5 separate regions of the Homo sapiens genome follow, and all the other regions are linked to region 1. The links come from fine-mapping of genetic effects on gene expression. A gene starts in region 1. Each other region holds a variant in brackets. All regions are shown on one strand. Distances are from middle to middle.

Evidence for each region. PIP is the estimated chance that this variant, and not a neighbour inherited with it, causes the effect. A credible set is the group of variants that fine-mapping cannot tell apart.
Region 2: its variant is the best candidate, but not a certain one, in a credible set for the expression of DPY19L1 in whole blood (TOPMed, PIP 0.83).
Region 3: its variant is the best candidate, but not a certain one, in a credible set for the expression of DPY19L1 in subcutaneous fat (GTEx, PIP 0.53).
Region 4: its variant is the best candidate, but not a certain one, in a credible set for the expression of DPY19L1 in visceral fat (GTEx, PIP 0.72).
Region 5: its variant is the best candidate, but not a certain one, in a credible set for the expression of DPY19L1 in whole blood (TOPMed, PIP 0.65).

What each region holds. Positions count from the first base shown.
Region 1 is chr7:35,034,788-35,039,787 of GRCh38, forward strand. DPY19L1 (dpy-19 like C-mannosyltransferase 1) reads right to left here and starts at 2,698. Exons shown (of 22, transcript NM_001366673.1): 1 at 2,310-2,698. The coding sequence starts at 2,607. It overlaps LOC105375228 (a long non-coding RNA gene), which reads left to right and starts at 1,999. Exons shown (of 3, transcript XR_001745162.3): 1 at 1,999-2,134. RefSeq lists silencers at 2,388-2,557, 2,588-3,257 and an enhancer at 3,308-3,537.
Region 2 is chr7:34,941,474-34,946,473 of GRCh38, forward strand. DPY19L1 (dpy-19 like C-mannosyltransferase 1) reads right to left here. Exons shown (of 22, transcript NM_001366673.1): 16 at 4,194-4,243; 17 at 1,142-1,166; 18 at 292-411. It overlaps LOC102724723 (a long non-coding RNA gene), which reads left to right and starts at 753. Exons shown (of 3, transcript XR_001745166.2): 1 at 753-833; 2 at 3,573-3,663. The variant C/T (reference allele first, on the strand shown) is at 2,300.
Region 3 is chr7:34,998,775-35,003,774 of GRCh38, forward strand. All of the region lies in intron 6 of DPY19L1 (dpy-19 like C-mannosyltransferase 1), which reads right to left. Among named protein-coding and RNA genes, the nearest start is that of DPY19L1, 36 kb to the right of the region's middle. RefSeq lists a silencer at 4,984-5,000. The variant T/C (reference allele first, on the strand shown) is at 2,844.
Region 4 is chr7:34,905,855-34,910,854 of GRCh38, forward strand. No RefSeq gene overlaps it. Among named protein-coding and RNA genes, the nearest start is that of MIR548N, 32 kb to the right of the region's middle. The variant C/T (reference allele first, on the strand shown) is at 2,568.
Region 5 is chr7:35,008,322-35,013,321 of GRCh38, forward strand. DPY19L1 (dpy-19 like C-mannosyltransferase 1) reads right to left here. Exons shown (of 22, transcript NM_001366673.1): 5 at 3,009-3,129; 6 at 2,147-2,240. Among named protein-coding and RNA genes, the nearest start is that of DPY19L1, 27 kb to the right of the region's middle. The variant A/G (reference allele first, on the strand shown) is at 1,926.

The sequences.
Region 1 (5,000 bases):
ATAATTGTTCTTTTTTTGATCAGTTACAAATGAACTCTTGATGAACAAAAGAATATGCAATGCAATGTGGAAAACCAAACAGCTATTTTAAAGTCCCACATTGAAATACTGTATAATGTCAGCTCAACTCTCACTCATTCTGGGAGGGGGGAAGAAAACAGGAAATAAGGCAGCTTTCAAAAATGTCTAAACTCTGCTCCTCTCTGCAGGATCTGAGTGGTTTTTTGACGCTGTGGCAGGGCATAATCGTGGGGAAGAAATAGGTCTGACATCAGTTTATGACGGTACAGAGCCAGAGAAAGAAGCAACCCAGGTCCAATCATTCAGCAGAATCATCTCTCAAGGTGCCCTGGGGCCTCATGCAGAGGGTTAACAAGGACAGAAAGTCTCTAGACCTGGGTCTGTTCATCCAACTTCCATATATCTGATGGCCATGGTCCAGGGTACACCCAAAAATACAATCTACCACATTCACTGTACCTCCTTTCAATGCTCAAAGGGGCAAGTCAAGCAACGTGCTATACTGTTACATTAATACAAAACTGTATTTAGGTATGGGAATTACTAAATCCAAAGGTAAGTCATCCAAATATAAGTCATGCATCCATCCAAAGAAGATTCAAAGGAAACGCAATCAAAAAAGAAAATATGCAGAAAATAGCAATAAATATCATTATTCTAAGATTTGTTATTGTAACATCCCTGAAGAAGCAATGCCATTCTATATTTTACTACAAAGTGGTTAATGTTTAGTCATTCAATAAAAATGCAACTCCATTCTGTCATCAGATCTCAAATCAGCATCACACACTTTCTTTTATTACAACAACTACAATGTGTCAAGTGCTCTAAACACAAAGTATCTTCCCATGTATCACCCACACCTTTTAGTTATGATCCTTAACAGATCCTGTGGATCCCTGTGGAGTAAATTCGCCATGTGATAACCCCCCACTAGCAGAGAACGAAAGACTCACAAAGGAACCTGAAACTTAAACCAAACTGAACCGCTGTGTACTAGATCTGAAGGCTCTGCCTCATCCACTGTATCGTGCTGCCTCCCCAAGGTGAGCTTTTCTAACCTGCATACTAGCCAGCTTTTCAAGCTTGCTACTGAGATAAAAAAAAAGGGGGCGGGGGGAAATGTGCTGGAAACAGACAAACAAACAAACAAAGAAAAACAAACTTGGTTTTTCTAGGCTTGAATCGGCAATGGGGGGAAAAAAAGTACCCTAGGAACAACCTTCTTGAGCCCATTAAAACATACAGAGATGACTGGCTTTTTATGACTGAGTGGCTTTTATTTGTGGCTGTGATCTCAGGGGAAGCCAATTTGCTGTGTCCTATTCCTTGACTTATACTGGACCCCAACTCCTGGCTAAGGGAACTTTGAGTCACCAAGGGAATCTGAAAATATACTAAGGGATAAATCAACAGTAATTAAATAGTTCAGTAGCGAAAAGCCCACTGAGGCATATAGAAAAAAGCAATGTAACAGCATTTCACTAGTTGACTTAGAAAAATTAGGCCTGTTATCCAAACTGCTACAACTTGCCTTATCAAAATTCAACCAGGAAACAGAGGAAACCTGAAGTCAGTCCGAAACATACGAATGCGTCAACTTTGTTTTTTTTTTTCAGCACATCATTACACATCATCCATTTGGTAAATGGCAGAGGGAGGGGAGGAGAGCCCTCCTCACCAAAGGTTCCAAGGGCAGCAGGGAGGATTAAGGCTCGGGCGCCCCAAACACAACACAACCTAGAAAGTGACGTGTCGAGGGGAATCACAAATAAAGTGCCACCAGCGGCGTTTGCGGCCAGGAAGAAAAAAGTACGCTAAAATTTAATTATAAGTTTAAGCAACTCTCTACGACATGGAACGTGCGTTTGCTTTGAGCTCCACGGAATCGTTTCCAAGCCAAAGCAAACCATCCTGGCGGTCAGAGGCCGAGATAACGGGAAGGCGGCCAGTCGTACCAATCAGCAGCGCTCAAGTCTCGTTAGCGCAGACCTGCTGCCCGCGGCCAGGCCGGGCAGCTGTTGATCCCCGGGCCATTCTTTTAAAGCCCAGGCAGAGCGCGGGTGGGAAGCGTGCGAGGAGAGCTGAGCCAGGGAGTTGCGGGGAGGAGAAGGTAAGAATGTCCCAGAGAAAAAGTCGGAGAGGGCTGCAAACTGGCTGGTCCGGCTGGCGGGGCTCGGCGCGGCGGAAGCGGGAGGAGAGGGGAAGGAAGGGGAGGGGAGGGGAGGGGAGGGGGCCAGCGCCTCAAAGTTCCGCGTCCCGGCGGCGCCGGCGCTAGGGCTGCTCACCTAACAGGAGCGTGGTCCAGGTCCGGCCGCGCCCCGCGCGCCGCAGGCCCAGCGCCCAGCGCAGCCGGGCGGCCAGGCGCCCCCCAAGGCCGCCCCCGGCGGGCGGCGCGCCGGGCTCGGCGCGGGGCCCCTTCCTGCCCGCGGCGCCCTTGCGCCCCGGGGACAGGGGCGCGCGCTCGGGCCCCGGCTCCCCGGCGCCGACGTCCGACGCCCCCCTCAGCGGCGACTGTGAGGCGCGGGGTGGCTGGGGCGGCTTGGGAGCCGCCTCCCGGTGCTTGTTCCGCGCCTGCAGGACCATCTTGGCATAGTCGCGCCCGCTCGCTGCGCGCGCCCGGACGGCGGCCAGAGAACGGCGGGCTGGCTGGGCGGCTGGGCGCAGCTCACTCTCCAGCGGGCGGGCGGGCGGAGGGTGGAGGGCGGGCTCGTCCCTCCCCGCGGGCCGGGAGGCGGGGAGATCGTGGAGGCCGGGCGGCTGCTGCCTGGCTGGCAGTACCGCCGGGAGGCGGCGCCGGACTTGCTAGCCCGCCGCCGTTGCCGCCGCTCCGGTTGTCACGGCGACCGCGGAACGCCGGGGGGCGGGGGCGGGGACACCCTGCGAGCGGCCGCGGCCCCGCCCCCGCCGCCCCTCTGCGCCGGACGCGCGCTCCAGGCCGGCCAGCGCGCACGCGCGGACTTCCGGCGCAGGCGGGGCCCGACCCCTCTGGCGCCCGGCTACCCACACCTCTTCGGCGCCCGCGCGGGGCTCGGCCGGTGCGAGGACGCGGGGGCGGACGGCCTTCCGGAGGCGGCCGCCCTTCCATTGTGGGAGTGATGGGGCCGAAGGAAGAGCCCTCTCGGGATCGGGGCGCTGATTCAAGTTTCGGAGCCTGTTAAGGCTGCGCTTGGAGCCCGCGCAGGCGAGACGCGGCGGGGCAGGGAGAAGGCGCCCGGAGCGGCCACTTAGGGGCGCTGTGCGTGCGCCCTGGGCGCCTGGTCGGCCCCACCGATGTGAAGCGCGCGGGTGGCAATCAAGTCACCGTCTCCGTTTACTCCCCGCAGTGTGGTCGCGCAACTTGGAGCGCAGCCCCTCACTCACCGACAAGAAGAACGGGTGCGACCCGATTTAAGATAGTAACAGAGTATTAAAATAGCAGCCTGGAATCTCATGGGGAGCTGATAAGGGACGAGGCACAAGTGTAAACTGAAGACCAGGGTAGGAGCCAGGCTGAAGGTGATAGGATGGATTGGCTGGAGCAGGAAAGATCATCAATAAGTACATTCAGTTTGTTACACTTGCTGTAACCTTGTTGCTTAATAGGAAGCAGGAAAACTTGGCGTTGATAAGATAGGAGATTTTAGTCGAAAATATGTTTTCTTTTACATAGCAGAATGCACGAGTAAATTAAACCCGGGAAAATTTAGAAACCCAGGTAGATCCCAATTCTCCCTCCACCCCTGCATTCTTTGCACACAGTCTTACAACAGCATGGATTACAACTGGGAGGTTCCTTTCCTGGCCGTGCCCAGTGGCTTGTTCCAAAAAGTTGTCTTTAAGTCCCAATGTTGTAAATCAAGGCCCATCGTTCTGCTTATCTCTATTGTAATTCCAGGGACTTCACGTGGCTTTCTCGCTCTTTGTTTCTTTGCCCAGTGATTTCTTTACTAATACCAGCATTCGTTCATTGTTAGCCTTTTTAAGAGACAGTGGATTATTTTGTAAAGGGAGGGTGTTTGCCATGCTAATTAATACTCCCTCATACCCTGTCTAGTTTATGAATTTGGATTTTCCAATGTCTTTATTGGAGCAAAGAACAACTATTTTTATACACTGGTTTAAAAAATAATGGTTGAAAGTAGGATGCAGAAGGCTTGGATTCTGAAACATTGTGTCAGCTGAACTCAATGCTACCTCTGGGATTAATGTTGAATGTATTCAGTTAAAAGAAAGCTAATTCAATGCCTATTAAAGATAATACGAATAACTGGCCGGGCACCGTGGCTCACGCCTGTAATCCCAACACTCTGGGAGGCCGAGGCGGGCAGATCACGAGGCCAAGAGTTCAAGACCAGCCTGGCCAAGATGGTGAACCTCTGTTTCTAATAAAAATACAAAAATTAGCCAGGCGTGGTAGCAGGCGCCTGTAGTCCCAGCTACTTGGGAGGCTGAGGCAGAAGAATCGCCTGAACCCGGGAGGCGGAGGTTGCAGTGAGCTGAGATACGCCACTGCACTCCAGCCTGGGCGACAGAGCGAGACTCCATCTCAAAAAAATAAATAAATAAAAATAATACAAATGATGGATTTTTTTTAATGATTAGAAAGACGCATGGAAAAAGAGGTTCAACATTTGAATTATTAGATTGCTGTGTGTCTACTTTATGTGATAGGCCCTGAATTCAGGAACTGCCTCCCTTAAGCTGGTACCGTTTGTACCAGGAAAACACTTGTTGAATGAGTGAGTGAATGAATGCAGTTCCACAAGTGCTTGTCAGTTCCCCTTCTCGGCTTGGCAACCATGCGGAGAGGGGCAGTGTGAGGTATTAGTTTTTTGGTTTTTTTGTTTTGTTTGTTTTTTTCTTAAACACGGTCAATTTAGATCCAGTTTGCAGCCACTACATTGACCCATACCAGCCTTGACCAAGGTATTATACCTCTTTGAGTCTGGATTTCTTCATTCTTAAAATGGAGGCAACAAAAACATCTAGTTCACAGG
Region 2 (5,000 bases), 93 kb before region 1:
AAGTTATTATTTGTACAATTAAGCTCTGCTTTCTATCAGCACCTGCAGTAATCACTCATGAACTCAGTCTGTACTAAATCGGTATTAGTTGTACACCAACAACTATTTTAAATCTTTAGAAAGATAGAAAATGATCAGCTTTGGCCCTTACCCTTTAAGAAAGATAAGTACAAAACCATGAAGAGCTTTAACTATAATCACTTAAAAGACTTTGTAATTCATTATTTTAGGGCCACTCAATAATAAAGGCTAAAATTATCATAGTAGCTATACTCCAACATAACATGTTACCTGTCTTGAGCAGATCAGTGATGCCATAACACACATGTGTGGTGTCAAGAAGAGTTTTAGTCTCATAATTAAAATACCAAGGGCTGTATATGCTAACAATTGCAATGCATGGTAAACCAGCTGAAAGAAAGAAGAAAATGTTTTTTACTCCTACTGTTTGTGAAGTTTAAGAATACTAAACTGGCAATATGCAGAAAGGGGTACGTTCTCCTTAGTAACAAAAAATACTACTAAGGTTTCTGAAACTTCGAAAACAATTCTTAAAATTCACTTTCAAACTGTTCCATTTTAGTGGAAGGCTAAAATTATAAAGTCATTAAGGCAAGTGTTTCTGTGATTCTCAGAGTCAAACCTGTGGTTAATAAAGCCCACATTTTTTAATCAACCTTGATGCTACCATCAGACCAAGAAAAGACAGTGGTAAAAGAAATGACTGCTGCCTCAAGATCTGAGGGCTCCACCTTGGAACTGCCCTCAAAACCAGACTGGACAACTAGGAGATGGGAGCAGTAACCAATCACATCTCTGAGGCCTCAAGCAAGGTGAGCAGAGAGGAAAGTGATTTCCAATCATGCAATAGACACCTCATACATATGTCTAAATGGGCTCCAGAAATCAACTGCCATTAGTGTAAAGATGATCAGAGCAGAACATATGAGTTTCCTAGTTAATTTTAACAAATGAATAGTCAGTGAATCTGCATATAGCATTCTCATAAAAACACATAACAGGCTATTTTCAAGATGATTGCTGACAATTGCCAACAAAGTTAGAAACTGGAACTAGAAAGGAAAGTCCAAATGCATGCAACTTTAAGATAAGTAAAATTATAGTCATATTAAGTCTTTACCTCTCCATGATCAAACTGGTGTTTTCTGGAACAGAAAAAAATATATTGCCATCAATTCATTATTGAAGCACTTACGTCATATATTTGCATTTTCATCTTGCAAACAGGAGTTTTACAACTTCTATAACATTCTCTCAGGACACACACAGGCAAATCAAAATAACTAAAAGTCACATGCCAAAACTGGTGCTATACTATTTTAAGAAAATTTATGAAGAATGACAATGTTGTATTATATCCTATTTGACTACATGGGTATTTATTAGGACAACAAAGGCACACGGTGGTGTCCCAGCTCCCTCACTGGTGATACCCCAGCAAAGCATGGAATGAAAAAAACCTTTGAGATTTTCACTAGGCAACCAAGTAGAGATAACAAATACGTGGTTATATGTGTAAATCTGAGTTCAAGGGAGAAGTCTGGGTCAGAGACAGAAATGTGTGAGTTGACAACACACACCTTCTCTTTCTTAAGCACTGATATGTTCCCAAGACCTAGAGTAATACCTGACACTTAGAGCTCAACATTTTTAATGAATGAACAAGTGTATCAATAAACTGTTAATCCAGGTAGCATATAATCTAATTTGAGAATCTAGCCTCAAAAAGACTGATATATTAGCAAACTCAGGACACATAAGGGGCTAGTGAAGGAGATGAAACAGTTCTTTATTCTTCTTTCACACCAAGTAAAAACTATCAGTTACCATTTGTTGAGTACTTACAATGTTAATATGCTTAGTACATTCCATTAACTCTAATCCTACAACCATTTATTACCCCAATTTACAGCCAAGGAAAGGAATCACAGAGCTAGTAAGTGGCAGCCAGGACTATATTCTGACTGACTTCAGAGCCAATATACTTTTTACTACATCATGCTGTCTCTATCCCACTTTACTTCCTGGGTCTTTGAGTAAAGAGAATATTGGCATTCATGTCTTTGATAGTTAAAATTTATGTCCTACTCTTCTCCTTTTTACACTGGCTTTGGTAGCTATGCAAAATAAAATGTCAACATGCCACTCCTCTTCCAAAAAAGAGCTCTGATCCTATTTGAACTGACAACTCCATGAAGCTCAATGGTTTCCTATAATTACTTCTATAGGTGAGTTATTACTCTTGAAGGGACAGCTTTGTTTCTGTGAGAAGTTCCAC[C/T]TTCCTCTTCCAGAGTTGCATACTACAGCTGAAACTTTGTAGCTTCTTCCTGAGCTCTTCAAAAATAATTTCACCTCAAATGAAAAATTTCGGCATTGTAAACCAGAACGTTTTTCTTTCCCCCTTAGCCCTCAACTCAAATGTTACAGGTATAAACATATACCTGTATATGTTACAGTAAATTGTTTCTAAATGAGAACAAGGATTCTCTCAGGAGTATGTGCAATAATTTATCATTATGTTGGCAGAGACTTGGAGGTGAGGGAATAATACAAGGGTGTGTATATTCAAATTATAAAATAAAATATAGGGCCAGGCGCAGTGGCTCATGCCTATAATCCCAGCACTTTGGGAGGCTAAGGCAGGCAGATCACGAGTTCATGAGTTCAAGACCAGCCTGGCCAATATGGTGAAACCCCGTCTCTACTAAAAATACAAAAATTAGCTGGGCGTGGTGGTGGTCGCCTGTAGTCTTAGCTATTCAGGAGGCTGAGGCAGACGAATCGCCTGAACCCGGGAGGCGGAGGTTGCAGTGAGCCGAGATCGTGCCACTGCACTCCTCCAGCCTGGGTGACAGAGTGAGGCTCTGTCTCAAAAAAAAAAAAAAAAAAAGAAAAATTAAAAAAAAGAAAATATAGATACATACACATTCGACAATCCTTCTCCCCCCAAAATCCCACAAAAGAATAAAAGTAGAGTTAAAACTACCTTCACTCCATCCTCTAATCCCACTCTTAATAATTACAGGATTTATCTTTCCGGATCATTTCTATGCACAAACACATAAAAATCTCTAAATTTTAAAGAGAAGTATAATTATCCTATACACACACACACTGGCAATTTTAAAAATTCAATAATGTATACTGGACCTATTTCCAGAAAGATAGCCTAACATTCCACTCTATGTATCATAGTAGATATTTTGGATGTTTCCATTTCTCACATAACACACAATACTACAAAAGGCATCTCTCCCCATCATCTCTGTATTTCTGTGAGCATCTCTAGAGGGTACACTTGCACTGGTGGAACCTGCAGGGCTAAAGGACAGGCCCACTATATGTTTTACTGTGTATTGCCAAACTTCCCTCCCATCTACTACCTCCCACTCTTGCAAGCATTGGATATACTATTAATTTTTAGAAATATAAGAAGTGAAAAGGTCTTCACTTTAACCTGAATGGCTTTACCATAGGATCAAGACTACCTTTTCATGTTCATTAGTCATATGTAAATACTCATTCAACTACTATCCTTTACTATCTTGCAGGCACTGTATATAAACTGTTGAACAAAAATGATCGCTCCCTTCAGGAGATACGGGTCACACATCAACATTTAAGTACAAAGGGTGACAAATGGTAAGAGAGTAAGACAAAGGGTGTGATGGTGGAAAATACCAAGCATGCTATAGGCCTCTCTAACTCTCAGGTTATAAACAAACCCTCTTGGTTAATTTTGGGTTTTTTTTTTCCTATACATAATTCTCTGGTTCATCTGAAATTTATTTTCTGTAAAAAGTGAGGTATGAATCCAGTTTTATATTTCCCTGCTCATTTCCAAAAAGGCAGTCCACTGGTCCTAAAACCACTCACGTAATAATTTACTTTCCCTGCTGAAATGAAGTACAAAACTGTGTCCTTTGAGTGTAGATTATGTGCAGGGCTACTGTCAGACTGTACTGGATAACATCTGAAGGATGAATAAGTGATGTGCTGTGTTCTGCACAGATAGGAAATAAGAAGAAATGCCAGGAAGGGAAATGACCACAATAAAAACATCAATTATCAAATATTAGGTACACAACATGTAAGTATACAATTAATACACTGTAAATATCTATTTAATAAATGAACAGAGGAGGTAATAAAATTCTTAATAGCATATTTACCTTACATGTGTCTGTTGTTTAGCTAAGACACCCCACATATCACTAATAATCTGTAAATAGATTTTGAAACACTTTAGAAAAGCTGTGTTGGGAAAAATGATATTTTAAATAAAGTATCTTCTAAACTGTAAAATAACTTTTAATGAAAATATAAGTATAGAGATAACTCAGAAAATAATAATCACAACAACATAATCTTATATTTGTATAGTATCTGATCAAAGCTAATATTCAACAACCCTGTTGGGTAGATTATATCATCCTCGTTTTGTAAATGAGCAACAGGTTCATATGGATTAAATGATTGCCCTGTAGGTAGACAACTACTAAGAAGCACTGCAGTCTTGAAACCAGATCTTCTGGCTTCAAATTCACATTCAGCGCTGCTTCCACCATGCCAACGTTGTTGGCAACACCTCTTCTTAACAGTGCACTCAGAAAACTGGAGAGCTGGCTCAGAGGTTGATAATCACAGCTGGAAGCATTCAAAACACAGTCACTGTGCTTTCATATTCAGCAATAATGAGGAGGTCATCTAATCTAAAATCGTATCTCCAGTACAAATATTCTCTACAACACTGATGACAGGCTGTAATCCAGCCCTTAGAATCCACCAGCTGCTGCTTGAATCTATAACACTTTCCTTATCAGTCGAGATCAGTTCTGGTCAAAAGTCATACCTCCTGGAATTGGCCATGATTCTAAGGAGCCAGATTGTGTGTAACCTTATTTTCAAGGCACAGGCTTTTACCATATTTCAAAGTAATTATCCGCTTTCCATCTACATCTTTTCTTCTTTAAACGAAA
Region 3 (5,000 bases), 36 kb before region 1:
GTCAAGCTAGGAATCAGCAGGCTGTGGGGATGGAAGCTTCCAATGTGAAAAATAGAAACTAATACAAATTGAAGGGGGACCTAGAGGTAACAAAGACAATGCAACAGGCAGAGAAATTTTCAAACTCAAGATTCTTTAAGTTGGAAATCTAACAGAAATGACAATAAAATGTAAAAATAAAATAAGGGAGAAAAACCCTGAGAAAATTCGACTTCAAGAAGTCCAATATCCAATCACTAACTTTCAAGAAAACAGGAAAAAAGAAATGGAGAAGAGAATGTCATTAGGGAAATAATACTAAAAAAAGTTTTCCTCCAAAGTGAAGAAAGTAAGTGCCCAGATAGAGCGCACAAAGTATGCGATGAGAAGGATGAAATAATATCTACCACATCATGACCTTTTACGGGACTAAAGAGAGAAAGATGAACCCAAAAGGTGCCAGAGGAAAACAACTAGCCACACACAAAAGGAACTAATGGTAGAATAGCACCAGACTTTTGAAAAGCTACACTCCATCTTAGAATACAGTCGAACAAAGCCTTTAAAAGTCTGAGGAAAAATAAAAATCAACAACCAGGCAAACCAGTAATTGAGTACAAAAATAAAAAAGGAAATGTTCAAACATGTCAGACAAATGTATTTTAAAATTATCTCTGTGACTCTCTTGGAAATTACCTGAGGATATGATCCTCAAAAGGATGAAACAGACCAGAAAGAGACCAACCTGGGGTCCAAAACACAATGAATCCAATGCAAGAGAGGAAAGGGGAATTCTCAGGATGGTGGTAAACAAAACTCCAAGGGAATCGCTAAACGGAAGCCCAGGGAAGGACGGGTCTAGGATGGAACCAGAGACAGAGGCTCCAGGAGGGAGGCCCCAGGGGATAGGAGTGGGAGAATTGAAATAATGGATTTTATACATTTGACAAAGTACAAAATAAGTGTTTACAGTTCAGCTGTAGATCTGGAGAGGAATTAATCAGCATACAGAACACCAAGGAAAACAAAATATTAGCAATAATTAACCACAGGAAAAATTTTAAGTTACCAAATAAACAATTATTTATACCACTTAATTCAGCAGTAAGCAATATTTTTACAGTCATAATAATGTAACTGCGGACTATGGTTTTACGTATCAGAATTGCTGAGTTTCCAAAGATCTGAAAGTGGCTTTCCCTAGACAAAGGGATACACAGGGTGGGGAAGACAGATGGGGCAAGGGACCACTGACGTACTTGATTATAAAAAGTTGAATAATGCCAAAAGATATGCATGTATATACAAAGCAGTGAAAATTCAGTTTAAAAACATACTAATAACTAACATACCCATTGTAGAGCACATTAATAGAAAGAAAGTTGTTCAATTAACTTACATGGAGACCTCTTGATCTTTGCCAAAAAATACTTCTAAGGAACAAATCATAAAAATGTTCCAGATAACATTAAAATAGCTGTTCGTATTCACCACCAAAAGAAATAATACAGTATATTTTAACCTTGGCTTGAAAACCATTAAAGAAAAACCTTCCAAAAAAAAGAAAAACTTTCCATACTGAAATTACCAACTACAAACTACCAGATCATGCGAAGGTATGGAGTTACAGTCATCTTACCTGGAGAATGAGGAGTCGGGGAAATGTGTAATCACAAAAGCAGACATTTAAGAATCCGCCCCCCAACATGCAGTATGTTACCTTTCCCTCCAATGTGTCGTTAGTTCAATAAATGAGTCTAAGTAAAATTAACTGAGGAAACTATTAGAATAATTATAAAATTACATGTATGACAGCTAAAAATGGAGCACAATAGGATCCTGAAAAATGGCAATATTAGAAAGAGTAAACTTCCACCTATCAAACCAAAACAATGCATACAGAAATATCAGCTGAAGAACAGCAAAATCCTGGGACCTCAGAATCCTTCGGAAATGAATTATTACAGAACAGTAATATTCTGGAACATCAGAACAGAAAAGAGAACGGAAAGTCTAGATCCTTCTTAGTGTCATGTATCTTTAAAACATTTTAAGTAAAACTTTTTATGAAATATAAATACCACTTACTTTGGCAATGAAATAAACACTTTTTTCTTCATTATGCAGGATCTTTAAACAAAAATTAACTAAAGCTGCAGACAATTTAATTGCTGTGGAAAGAACACTTAAAATGTATTCTCAGAGACAGTAGAGCACACGTTTTGGAGCCACTGTTGGTACTCAAATCCCTACTCTGCCAGTGACTAGCTCTGTGACCTCGGAAAAGTTATTTAATATCCTTGTGTCTCAGTTTCCTCATCTATAAAGCGGTTTACCTATCTCATGGGAAAACCATATGGATTAAATGAGTTTCTGATAGTAAAGAGTTTAGAGCCTCGCACATAAGCGTCATACATGAACTGAACTTCTGCAATCAAAAACAGTCTTCAGTGAAGATTGGAATCTGCAGAAGGAAAGCTTCAGAATGAGTCCATTGGAAAAATACTTCCTAAATTGGTAAACGCTAGTAAAGCTTATGTGATAGATAATATGTTTTTATTGTGCCTTTCATATATGGCAACCATAAGCTAAGTTTTTCTTTCAATATTTTATTATTAATTAATTTATTCAATCAAAAAATATTTTGGAAGGCAAGCATTCTTCTGGGTCACTTGCAAACACTACCTTATTCCATTCTCACATAGAAGACAGAGTCTCTTAAACTCATTTAGGTGTTCTTCCCTCTACTCAATCACTTCTTTAAAAATCATCTATAATCTTCCATTTCAGTTAACCTAATAAAACACTGCACCTCCCTTTTACAACCCTAAAAGACCTCTGTTACTTTATATTTTCTTTTACAT[T/C]TAAAGGCAAACCAAAGAACTGGCAGTCACTCTAAGTTCTGCTCACATCATTTATTCAAACTATATAAAAACTCAACCTTAACAGATTCCACCCACAATTTAGAGCTTCTATACAGCTTTTTTTGGTCTTCTAGCCTTAATCATGACAGCCTAAGTTTGCCAGACATCTAAGGAAGGCACCTAACATGGAAGGTAGAGACCAAAGGATGTTTAAAAAAACAAGCTAGGCCGGGCACAGTGGCTCATACCTGTAATCCCAGCACTTTGGGAGGCTGAGGCGGGCGGATCACCAGGTCAAGAGATTGAGACAATCCTGGCCAACATGGTAAAAACCCCTCTCAACTAAAAAATACAAAAATTGGCTGGGTGTGGTGGTGCGTGCCTGTAGTCCCAGCTACTTGGAAAGCTGAAGCAAGAAAAAATTGCTTGAACCCAGGAGGCCAAGGTTGCAGTGAGTCAAGATCGTGCCATTGCACTCCAGCCTGGTAACAGAGCGAGACTCCAGCTCAAAAAAAAAAAAAAAAACAAAACAAAAAACAACAACAAAAAAAACCCACACACACAAGCTAGAAGATGCCAAGGTTATTCTGGGAGGGTAAAAACATCATTAATACCCTTAGAGAGAATATTTATTGAATCCAAGAAACAAAAATAAAATACTATTTTTTAAAAAGGAATGTTTATAGAACAAACAAAACTTCTTGGAAATTAAAAGCATGATAATGAAAAATAAAAACTCAGTAGAAGGTTGGAAAAAATAAGGCTGATAAAATGTTCTAGAATGTAGAACAAAGCCAAAGAGCTTAAAAATGGGGGGAAAAAAAAGAAAATTAGAGGACTGGAAACTACAAACATCCAAACAAAAGTTCTGAATCAGAAAACAAAGGGAATAAAATAAGTAAAGAAATAATTCAAGAAAATTCTCAGAAATCAAAGGCATGATTGAAACAACCCATCAAGTGTCCAAGAGAACACATGAAAGCAGATCTACACTGAGACATATTGCTCTGAAATTTCAGAACCATAGAGACAAAGAAGATATTCTACAATCTTCCAGAGAGAGGAAGGGGAAGCAAAGGTCACATACAAAGGTTTAGAAATTTGAATAACTTAGGAACATCTGAATAGCATCATCTGAAGCAACCAACAATGTTCTCTTTTCTTCTTTTGAGACGGAGTCTTGCTCTGTCGCCCAGGCTGGAGTGCAGTGGCACAATCTTGGCTCACTGCAAGCTCTGCCTCCTGGGTTCACGCCATTCTCCTGCCTCAGCTTACTGAGTAGCTGGGACTACAGGTGCCCGCCACCACGCTTGGCTAATTTTTTTGTATTTTTTAGTAGAGACGGGGTTTCACTGTGTTAGTCAAGATGGTCTCGATCTCCTGACCTTGTGATCCACCCACCTCGGCCTCCCAAAATGCTGGGATTACAGGCGTGAGCCACCGTGCCCGGCCAGCAACCAACAATGTTTTCAAGTCTAGAGTTCAACACTCGGCCAAACAGTGAACCAAATACGAAAGCAAATAAACACATTTTGCAAAGTTTCATAAAATGTTTACTTCCCAGCTATCTACTCTCAAGACCTACCTACTAGAAGATGAGGTCTACCAAAGAGGGAAAATAAACCAAGAAAGAGGAACAAACAGGATAAGGGCACAGGGGATCCAACAGGGGAGAGCAGTCAAGGAAATCCCAATGGGATGCCAAAAGGACAGATGTACACAAACCATGGAAGGTAGCCAGTCCAGAACCAAGTACTGACTCATGCCCAAAATCTCCACATTTTATTTGTGTGAGCCTGGATGAGCCTGGACCAGATTCTTGTCTGTATTTTATCTTGGCTCCACATACTTTACTGCTGGCATCAGTTAAAGACACTTATATCACTCACAGAAGTTGTTCTGCTTTGATATGCTCCAGAGAGCCAGGGTAAACAGTGGTGAATTTAGAAAGAGGGAACAGCTCTTCCCCTCATGATATTTCTGCTGGATATTCAGTACCTGGCCACTACATTTCTGCCAGATGTCCCTACCGACTGAGTCCTACATTTATCCCAGGCTCATGACGTTGCCTACTGATGTCCTGAGGAATCAGGCTCCTGGTTGAAAACCTATATGGGATTTCTCAGGCCTGGCCATATGCAAGGCTTTGCCTGACAG
Region 4 (5,000 bases), 130 kb before region 1:
CCAGCCCATGGGGAGCTCTGGGAGGTTTAAAGCAGAGAAGAACCTTGCCTTGTCTAAATTCTGTAAGTCTCAACACTCTGCTTCCTTCATAGCACTTATGGAAGTTTGCAATTATTTCGTGGACTTGTTTATTTTTTTCCATATCTTCCACTAAATGTCAAGCTATGAGCAGAAATAAATTATGTCTGTTTTGTTCACATTTACTTCTCAACTACCCTGTAAGTCCCTGGAACATAGTATGAATTCCATAAAAAGTAATTGAATACATGAGTAAATGAAGGATGCATGCAGGAATAGATGAGTAGAATCAACACAAAATTAACCATGGGTTTCATTCAACACATACCTCACCACTCCTGCATGTATATAAGATTCTTCTGAAAGCGGGGAGGAGCCAAGATGCCCGAATAGGAACAGCTCTGGTCTACAGCTCCCAGCCTGAGCGACGCAGAAGACGGGTGATTTCTGCATTTCCATCTGAGGTACCGGGTTCATCTCACTAGGGAGTGCCAGACAGTGGGCGCAGGTCAGTGGGTGCGCGCACCGTGCGCGAGCCTAAGCAGGGCGAGGCATCGCCTCACTCAGGAAGCGCAAGGGGTCAGGGAGTTCCCTTTCCTAATCAAAGAAACGGGTGAAGGACGGCACCTGGAGAATCGGGTCACTCCCACCCGAATACTGCGCTTTTCCGACGGGCTTACAAAACGGCGTACCACCAGATTATATCCCGCACCTGGCTCGGAGGGTCCTACCCCACGGAGTCTCGCTGATTGCTAGCACAGCAGTCTGAGATCAAACTGCAAGGCGGCAGCGAGGCTGGGGGAGGGGCACCCAACATTGCACAGGCTTGCTCAGGTGAACAAAGCAGCCGGGAAGCTCGAACTGGGTGGAGCCCACCACAGCTCAAGGAGGCCTGCTTGCCTCTGTAGTCTCCACCTCTGGGGGCAGGGCACAGACAAACAAAAAGACAGCAGTAACCTCTGCAGACTTAAATGTCCCTGTCTGACGGCTTTGAAGAGAGCAGTGGTTCTCCCAGTACGCAGCTGGAGATCTGAGAACCGGCAGACTGCCTCCTCAAGTGGGTACCTGACCCCTGACCCCCAAGCAGCCTAACTGGGAGGCACCCTCCAGCAGGGGCACACTGACACCTCACACGGCAGGGTATTCCAACAGACCTGCAGCTGAGGGTCCTGTCTGTTAGAAGGAAAACTAACAAACAGAAAGGACATCCACACCAAAAATCCATCTGTACATCACCATCATCAAAGATCAAAAGTAGATAAAACCACAAAGATGGGGAAAAAACAGAACAGAAAAACTGGAAACTCTAAAAAGCAGAGCGCCTCTCCTCCTCCAAAGGAACGCAGCTCCTCACCAGCAACGGAACAAAGCTGGACGGAGAACGACTTTGACGAGCTGAGAGAAGAAGGCTTCAGACAATCAAATTACTCTGAGCTACGGGAGGACATTCAAACCAAAGGCAAAGAAGTTGAAAACTTTGAAAAAAATTTAGAAGAATGTATAACTAGAATAACCAATACAGAGAAGTGCTTAAAGGAGCTGATGGAGCTGAAAACCAAGGCTCGAGAACTACATGAAAAATGCAGAAGCCTCAGGAGCCGATGCGATCAACTGGAAGAAAGGGTATCAGCAATGGAAGATGAAATGAATGAAATGAAGCGAGAAGAAAACTTTAGAGAAAAAAGAATAAAAAGAAACGAGCAAAGCCTCCAAGAAATATGGGACTATGTGAAAAGACCAAATCTACGTCTGATTGGTGTACCTGAAAGTGATGGGGAGAATGGAACCAAGTTGGAAAACACTCTGCAGGATATTATCCAGGAGAACTTCCCCAATCTAGCAAGGCAGGCCAACGTTCAGATTCAGGAAATACAGAGAACGCCACAAAGATACTCCTCGAGAAGAGCAACTCCAAGACACATAATTGTCAGATTCACCAAAGTTGAAATGAAGGAAAAAATGTTAAGGGCAGCCAGAGAGAAAGGTCGGGTTACCCTCAAAGGGAAGCCCATCAGACTAACAGCGGATCTCTCGGCAGAAACCCTACAAGCCAGAAGAGAGTGGGGGCCAATATTCAACATTCTTAAAGAAAAGAATTTTCAACCCAGAATTTCATATCCAGCCAAACTAAGCTTCATAAGTGAAGGAGAAATAAAATCCTTTAGAGACAAGCAAATGCTGAGAGATTTTGTCACCACCAGGCCTGCCCTAAAAGAGCTCCTGAAGGAAGTGCTAAACATGGAAAGGAACAACTGGTACCAGCCACTGCAAAATCATGCCAAAATGTAACGACCATCAAGACTAGGAAGAAACTGCATCAACTAACGAGCAAAATAACCAGCTAACATCATAATGACAGGATCAAATTCACACATAACACTATTAACTTTAAATGTAAATGGACTAAATGCTCCAATTAAAAGACACAGACTGGCAAATTAGATAAAGAGTCAAGACCCATCAGTGTGCTGTATTCAGGAAACCCATCTCACGTGCAGAGACACATATAGGCTCAAAACAAAAGGATGGAGGAAGATCTACCAAGCAAA[C/T]GGAAAACAAAAAAAGGCAGGGGTTGCAATCCTAGTCTCTGATAAAACAGACTTTAAACCAACAAAGATTAAAAGAGACAAAGAAGGCCATTACATAATGGTAAAGGGATCAATTCAACAAGAAGAGCTAACTATCCTAAATATATATGCACCCAATACAGGAGCACCCAGATTCATAAAGCAAGTCCTGAGTGACCTACAAAGAGACTTAGACTCCCACACATTAATAATGGGAGACTTTAACACCCCACTGTCAACATTAGACAGATCAACAAGACAGAAAGTCAAAAAGGATACCCAGGAATTGAACTCAGCTCTGCACCAAGTGGACCTAATAGGCATCTACAGAACTCTCCACCCCAAATCAACAGAATATACATTTTCTTCAGCACCACACCACACCTATTCCAAAATTGACCACATACTTGGAAGTAAAGCTCTCCTCAGCAAATGTAAAAGAACAGAAATTATAACAAACTATCTCTCAGACCACAGTGCAATCAAACTAGAACTCAGGATTAAGAATCTCACTCAAAACCGCTCAACTACATGGAAACTGAACAACCTGCTCCTGAATGACTACTGGGTACATAATGAAATGAAGGCAGAAACAAAGATGTTCTTTGAAACCAAGAGAACAAAGACACAACATACCAGAATCTCTGGGACGCATTCAAAGCAGTGTGTAGAGGGAAATTTATAGCACTAAATGCCCACAAGAGAAAGCAGGAAAGATCCAAAATTGACACCCTAACATCACAATTAAAAGAACTAGAAAAGAAAGAGCAAACACATTCAAAAGCTAGCAGAGGCAAGAAATAACTAAAATCAGAGCAGAACTAAAGGAGATAGAGACACAAAAAACCCTTCAAAAAATTAATGAATCCAGGAGCTGGTTTTTCAAAAGGATCAACAAAATTGATAGACCACTAGCAAGACTAATGAAGAAAAAAAGAGAGAAGAATCAAATAGATGCAATAAAAAATGATAAAGGGGATATCACCACCGATCCCACAGAAATACAAACTACCATCAGAGAATACTACAAACACCTCTACACAAACAAACTAGAAAATCTAGAAGAAATGGATAAATTCCTTGACACATACACTCTCCCAAGACTAAACCAGGAAGAAGTTGAATCTCTGAATAGACCAATAACAGGCTCTGAAATTGTGGCAATAATCAATAGCTTACCAACCAAAAAGAATCCAGGACCAGATGGATTCACAGCCGAATTCTACCAGAGGTACAAGGAGGAACTGGTACCATTCCTTCTGAAACTATTCCAATCAACAGAAAAAGAGGGAATCCTCCCTAACTCATTTTATGAGGCCAGCATCATTCTGATACCAAAGCCGGGCAGAGACACAACCAAAAAAGAGAATTTTAGACCAATATCCTTGATGAACATTGATGCAAAAATCCTCAATACAATACTGGCAAACCGAATCCAGCAGCACATCAAAAAGCTTATCCACCATGATCAAGTGGGCTTCATCCCTGGGATGCAAGGCTGGGTCAATATACACAAATCAATAAATATAATCCAGCATATAAACAGAGCCAAAGACAAAAACCACATGATTATCTCAATAGATGCAGAAAAGGCCTTTGACAAAATTCAACAACCCTTCATGCTAAAAACTCTCAATAAATTAGGTATTGATGGGACATATTTCAAAATAATAAGAGCTATCAATGACAAACCCACAGCCAATATCATACTGAATGGGCAAAAACTGGAAGCATTCCCTTTGAAAACTGGCACAAGACAGGGATGCCCTCTCTCACCACTCCTATTCAACATAGTGTTGGAAGTTCTGGCCAGGGCAATTAGGCAGGAGAAGGAAATAAAGAGTATTCAATTAGGAAAAGAGGAAGTCAAATTGTCCCTGTTTGCAGATGACATGACTGTATATCTAGAAAACCCCATTGTCTCAGCCCAAAATCTCCTTAAGCTGATAAGCAACTTCAGCAAAGTCTCAGGATACAAAATCAATGTGCAAAAATCACAAGCATTCCTAGACAAACAGAGAGCCAAATCATGAGTGAACTCCCATTCACGATTGCTTCAAAGAGAATAAAATACCTAGGAATCCAACTTACAAGGGATGTGAAGGACCTCTTCAAGAAGAACTACAAACCACTGCTCAAGGAAATAAAAGAGGATACAAAGAAATGGAAGAACATTCCATGCTCATGGGTAGGAAGAATCAATATCATGAAAATGGCCATACTGCCCAAGGTAATTTACAGATTCAATGCCATCCCCATCAAGCTACCAATGCCTTTCTTCACAGAATTGGAAAAAACTACTTTAAAGTTCATATGGAACCAAAAAAGAGCCCGCATCGCCAAGTCAATCCTAAGCCAAAAGAACAAAGCTGGAGGCATCACACTACCTGACTTCAAACTATACTACAAGGCTAC
Region 5 (5,000 bases), 26 kb before region 1:
ATATGCATCTCCCATGTAGACAAAAAACTGTCTACCAGGCACCACAGGGTTAGGTCAGGTCAGGGCCAAAACCACCAAAAACCCCTCAACCAAAACCAGGAACTTTTATTCTCTTCAGTAGATGTTGTGCCTTCTGCCTTTGAAAAAACAGTTATAACAAGCATTACAAGAAAATGTGAATGCTTTAACGGATGTTTACAAATTCTTCTTTCAATTAAAAAAGTAGCCAGGCATGGTGGCACACACTTGTAGTTCCAGCTACTTGGGAGGCTGAGGCAGGAGGACTGCTTGAAGCCAGTGGTTTGAGGCTATAGTGCTCTGTGACCACATCTGTGAATAGTCACTAGACTCCAGCCTGGGTAACAATATAGCAAGACCCCATATTTTTTTAAAAAAAGGGTAGCATAAGTGCAGATTAGCAGCTTAGCAGTAATGCCATGTTTCATATTTTAACTTCTCTTATGTAAAATCTAATCTCCCAAATGTAATAAAGCTACCCATAGACAGATGGGCAGTACTCAGCAAAATGAATAGACACCACCAAGTTTCTCTCCCTCTGGCTCATTACGATGCAAGCACACAGGCCCACTTTCCCTCAAGTCAGCCTCCTTTTCTCATTACCATATTCTTTTGGTTTAACTTATTTCCCTGCATCTTGTTTCAAAAACAAAATCTTTCACAATCATCTTTTAATCATGCATTTTTATTTTAGTCTCCCCAATTAAACAAAAGAATTTTCTTAGACCTAAGTCAGAAATAGTAACATCAAAGTGTCTTAAATCTATATGCAAATATATTTTACATTGATCTTCTAACAGCTTCCTCTTTTGACAAATGCTTATCAAGTAACTGCTAGATACTCAAACGGTGGGCTAGAAACTCAACACATCTTTGAGGTACTAAACTGAAAATGCCACACTTCCAAAGGAAAGGAGATAATGCGATAATAGCAAATTCAAACTCATTATCCCAAATTGAAAATCATATACAATTCTCATAATTCTGTACTACAAAGAATCAATAAGCAGCAAGGAAGAAAATTCTAAAGATAATCTCAAGGTAAAATACTTCAAACATATATACAGAATAATAAATTGGCAAAAAAGAAGTAAACATAAAAAGCCTTAAAAAATTAGTCTTTTAGTTTTAGGAATGCTGCTCAACTGTAAAGTAAATCAGGTCAGATACTAAATATTGTACAGAAGACACTTCTAAATATTACATAGAAGATACTTCTACTTTAACATTAATAAAGAGCTATTAATATCATTTGATAATGAGTGGTCTTTTCCCTTATATTTTATGTAAACAATATATACTGGATGGAGCTGAAACCATCTACAGCCATTGACATTGGAAGAAGAACCACAGACAGCCATCTAGAAAGACCCAAATGCTCTAAGGTAAAAGCTGCTCCCTCATGTTACCTTAAGCAGTAGTCTACAGACTTTTTTTACACCAAAACTACAGTAAGAAGTAAGACTTCACACATCTCAGCACACACACGTATACACGTACATACAGCAAATGGAATATACTGTTCCATAACAATATATTAGATATTCCATAACAATATATGGAATATATATTGCTTATGTTCAAATGCCTATGAATATTCAAAATTTATGCCAGGCACTGTGGCTCATGCCTGTAATCCCAGCACTTTGGAAGCTGAGATGGGCAGATCACTCAAGCCCAGGAAGTTGAGACTAGTCTGGGCAACATAGCAAACCCTGTCTCTACAAAAAATACAAAAAAATTAGCTGAGTTTGGTGGCGTGCACCTATAGTCCCAGCTACTCAGGAGGCTGAAGTGGGAGGATCGCTTGAACCCAGGAGGCGGAGGTTGCAGTGAGCAGAGATCACACTACTGCACTCCAGCCTGGGTGACAGAGTGAGACCCTGTCTCAAAAAAAAAAGTAATTA[A/G]ATTTATCAAGTATTCCCAATTCTATTTACATCTCTAAAACTATCTTAAGTGTGATGGGCCATGGCAGTGGTGAAATCATGCAAATAATGAATTTTATGATAATAAGATATTTTAGGATATTTTCATAAAACTGAACTATAAATTAATCAATGATTAACTATTAACTAATCAACTATTTTATTTTAGTATATCTTATAAACACATACTAAAATATTCTTACCTTAAATATGTGCCATATATGAAGAATAATGCCATCATTAGTCCATTTAAAATAAAAATTACAGCAACATAAAAGCAAGCAGGATCTCCCAATCCTTTAAAAATAAACAAAACATATGTTCTAATCACATTAACCCAAATTACCTTACGTGTCTAGCAATTTATATTAAATTGTGTTCATTTTGAAAATGGTTGCCAGATATATTAAATAGCTGCCTTGGTTCCCACATGAAAACACAACACTACTGCAGAACATAGATGAGACCAGGGTAATTAGCAATGATGGTTTTAAAACAGGGCTGCAAATTCACTGATACGCCTCCTCTGGAGGTATGGGGTCTATAGCCCCCATTTTTGAGTTTCATTGGGCTTGTGACTCTTTCAACAGAGTATGGCAGAAGCAACACTATGTGACTTCTGAGGCTAGGTCATAAGAGGTCATACAGTGTCCAGCTTGGAGCCTTCAGCTGCCATAGGAAAAGCCTTACTACTACTCTGAGGTACTTTGCTTTCAAAAAGCCCAAGTCACCCCGAAAGGCCACATGTAGGTGTCCCAGCTGAGAGTTCCAGCTGAGCTCAGCCTCACAGTCCTCCATGCCCAGGAGCCAAAATGTGAGCAATGTAGCCTCTCAGTTAATTCCAGCCTTCCCAGACATTTGAGTCTTAGTAGCAGAGGTCCCTGAAATCATGGACATAAACCAGCCCCGCTAAAGCCTGCCCAAATTCTGGACTTGCAGAATCTATATATGCATAATAAAATGGGTGTTGTTTATACCACTAAGTTTACAGTGTAAGTTTATTATGCTAGATAAGTTTATTATGTTACAACAGATAACTGGACAATATTACAGAAAGAAACTTACCTTCACAGCTTTCAATAGGACTGAGTCCTTCTCCTCTGGTAACCGTCCAACATATCTTGGTTTGAATACCAATCAAGTCCATTATTTTGGTATAAATCCGGTACCAACTGGCCAAAATTACCTATTTTAAAAAATACAGAGGCATCTTAAGAAAATATACTAAACAATTTTCATTACTAGAATACTTTTGAGATACTTTGACAATTACCATATTTTCCCTTTCCATACCATCCACTTGGCTCCCTTTAAATGTAGTAAAACAAGGCTCAGAATCTCCTAGGCAGATTCTTCACTGGTCAGTTTTCAATTGTTCATCCATGGGTAAGGACAAAATATGGGCCAAAAAAAAGTGCTAAATTTATGTTTTTCAAAAGCTCTACAACTCTACTAAGAGACACAAAAGAAGATTTGCACAAGTAAAAGATACTGGGTCTACTGGAATAGACCGAATTATTTAAGATATGAATTCTCCCTCAAATTAATTCATAAACATAAAATAATTCCAGTCAAAATTCCAAGTGTCTAAAATGTATCTAGAAAACTAACAAGAAAATTAAAGGGAATGTTTTAACAGATATTAAGTCTTACCACTTTTAATAATTAAAATAGTGTGATACTGGCACAAGAATGGCTAGACAGATCAATAACCATGGTACAAGCGGTGGCAAGCCACCCCAGATTCCCTCTTCCGGGCTGAGGCACTCATTCCTCCAGCTGGTTAGAAGACTGGTGCCTGAAAGCTTGAAGCTGTGTCCCTCCATGGGAACTGCCCATGGCTGAAGAAAGTAAATTCACTCAAGGTGACATCCCCTACCCACGGGCAATCTGCATCTGATGACCGACTAGTCAATAGGGAAAGACATCAAGGCCAGGGGCCCTTCTCACAAGGTAGGACAACTCTGCAAAGCCATCCCAGATCCAGAGCTGCCCAGGGACTGGATGAGGCCTTCACAGTGACTGTATCAAAGCTCTCCTCTTCCTCCTACCTCATTCTGCTTCATTCATCCCCCTTCAGGTGTTGGCCCTAAGGACACTCCCTCGACTACTTCCTGCATGCAAATCTCCATCTCAAAGTCCACTTTCCAGGACCTCAACCTAAGGCAATACTGAGCACAAAATCCAGAAACACGTGCAAGCATGTATGTATAATAATTTTGCATATAAAGAAAAAAGCTTACTTCAAATCAGTGGAGAGAGGATGGACACCTCATCAGTGTTAGGTTACACACAATACATTTTCAAAAAACAATTCAAGGTTAGATTCCTACCCCACACTATGCATCAAAACCAATTCCAGATAAATTAAAAATGTAAATTAAAAAAAATTATGATTATAAAAATGAAGTTTTTTACATGTATGTATAAAAGACAAAAAAGATTCAAAGATATATTTCTGTATAGAAAAAAATACATAGACATCATACACAAAGCTAAAGGGCAAACAACTGGGGAAAATGTTTCATTATATAGCATTATATTAATATCCAGTATATAATAAATGAACTTATAAAATTTTAACAGAAATATAGATGAAAGGCATGAATTGGCAATTATTTTTAAAAGTAAAAATGCATTATGTATATATGTATGTGTGTTATATATACATATATAGAGAACACTGATATATATATATAAAATCAATGAATGAAATACATCACGTGACCAATTTGTCTATCCAATTAACAAAGATGCAGGTAAATAAGTAGTTTCAAAAACACTGCTGGTGGATAGTTCAATATCTATCTGGAAAGCCTTCTGACAAAATCATTAAAATATATATTCTATTGAACTAGAGTTCCACATCAACAAATTTATAGTTTTGCAAGGAGGATAAAGGAGAGGCCAAATGTCATCTCCACTTGCTGGATTGGGCTCACCTTCCCTCCACTCCCACTCAAGAAAGTGCACTCAATTAAATGAGGAAAGGGAAGAAAACATTTAACAAATGACATGTAAAAGTAACAGCGCTCCCTTGGTATAATCCCTGTAAGC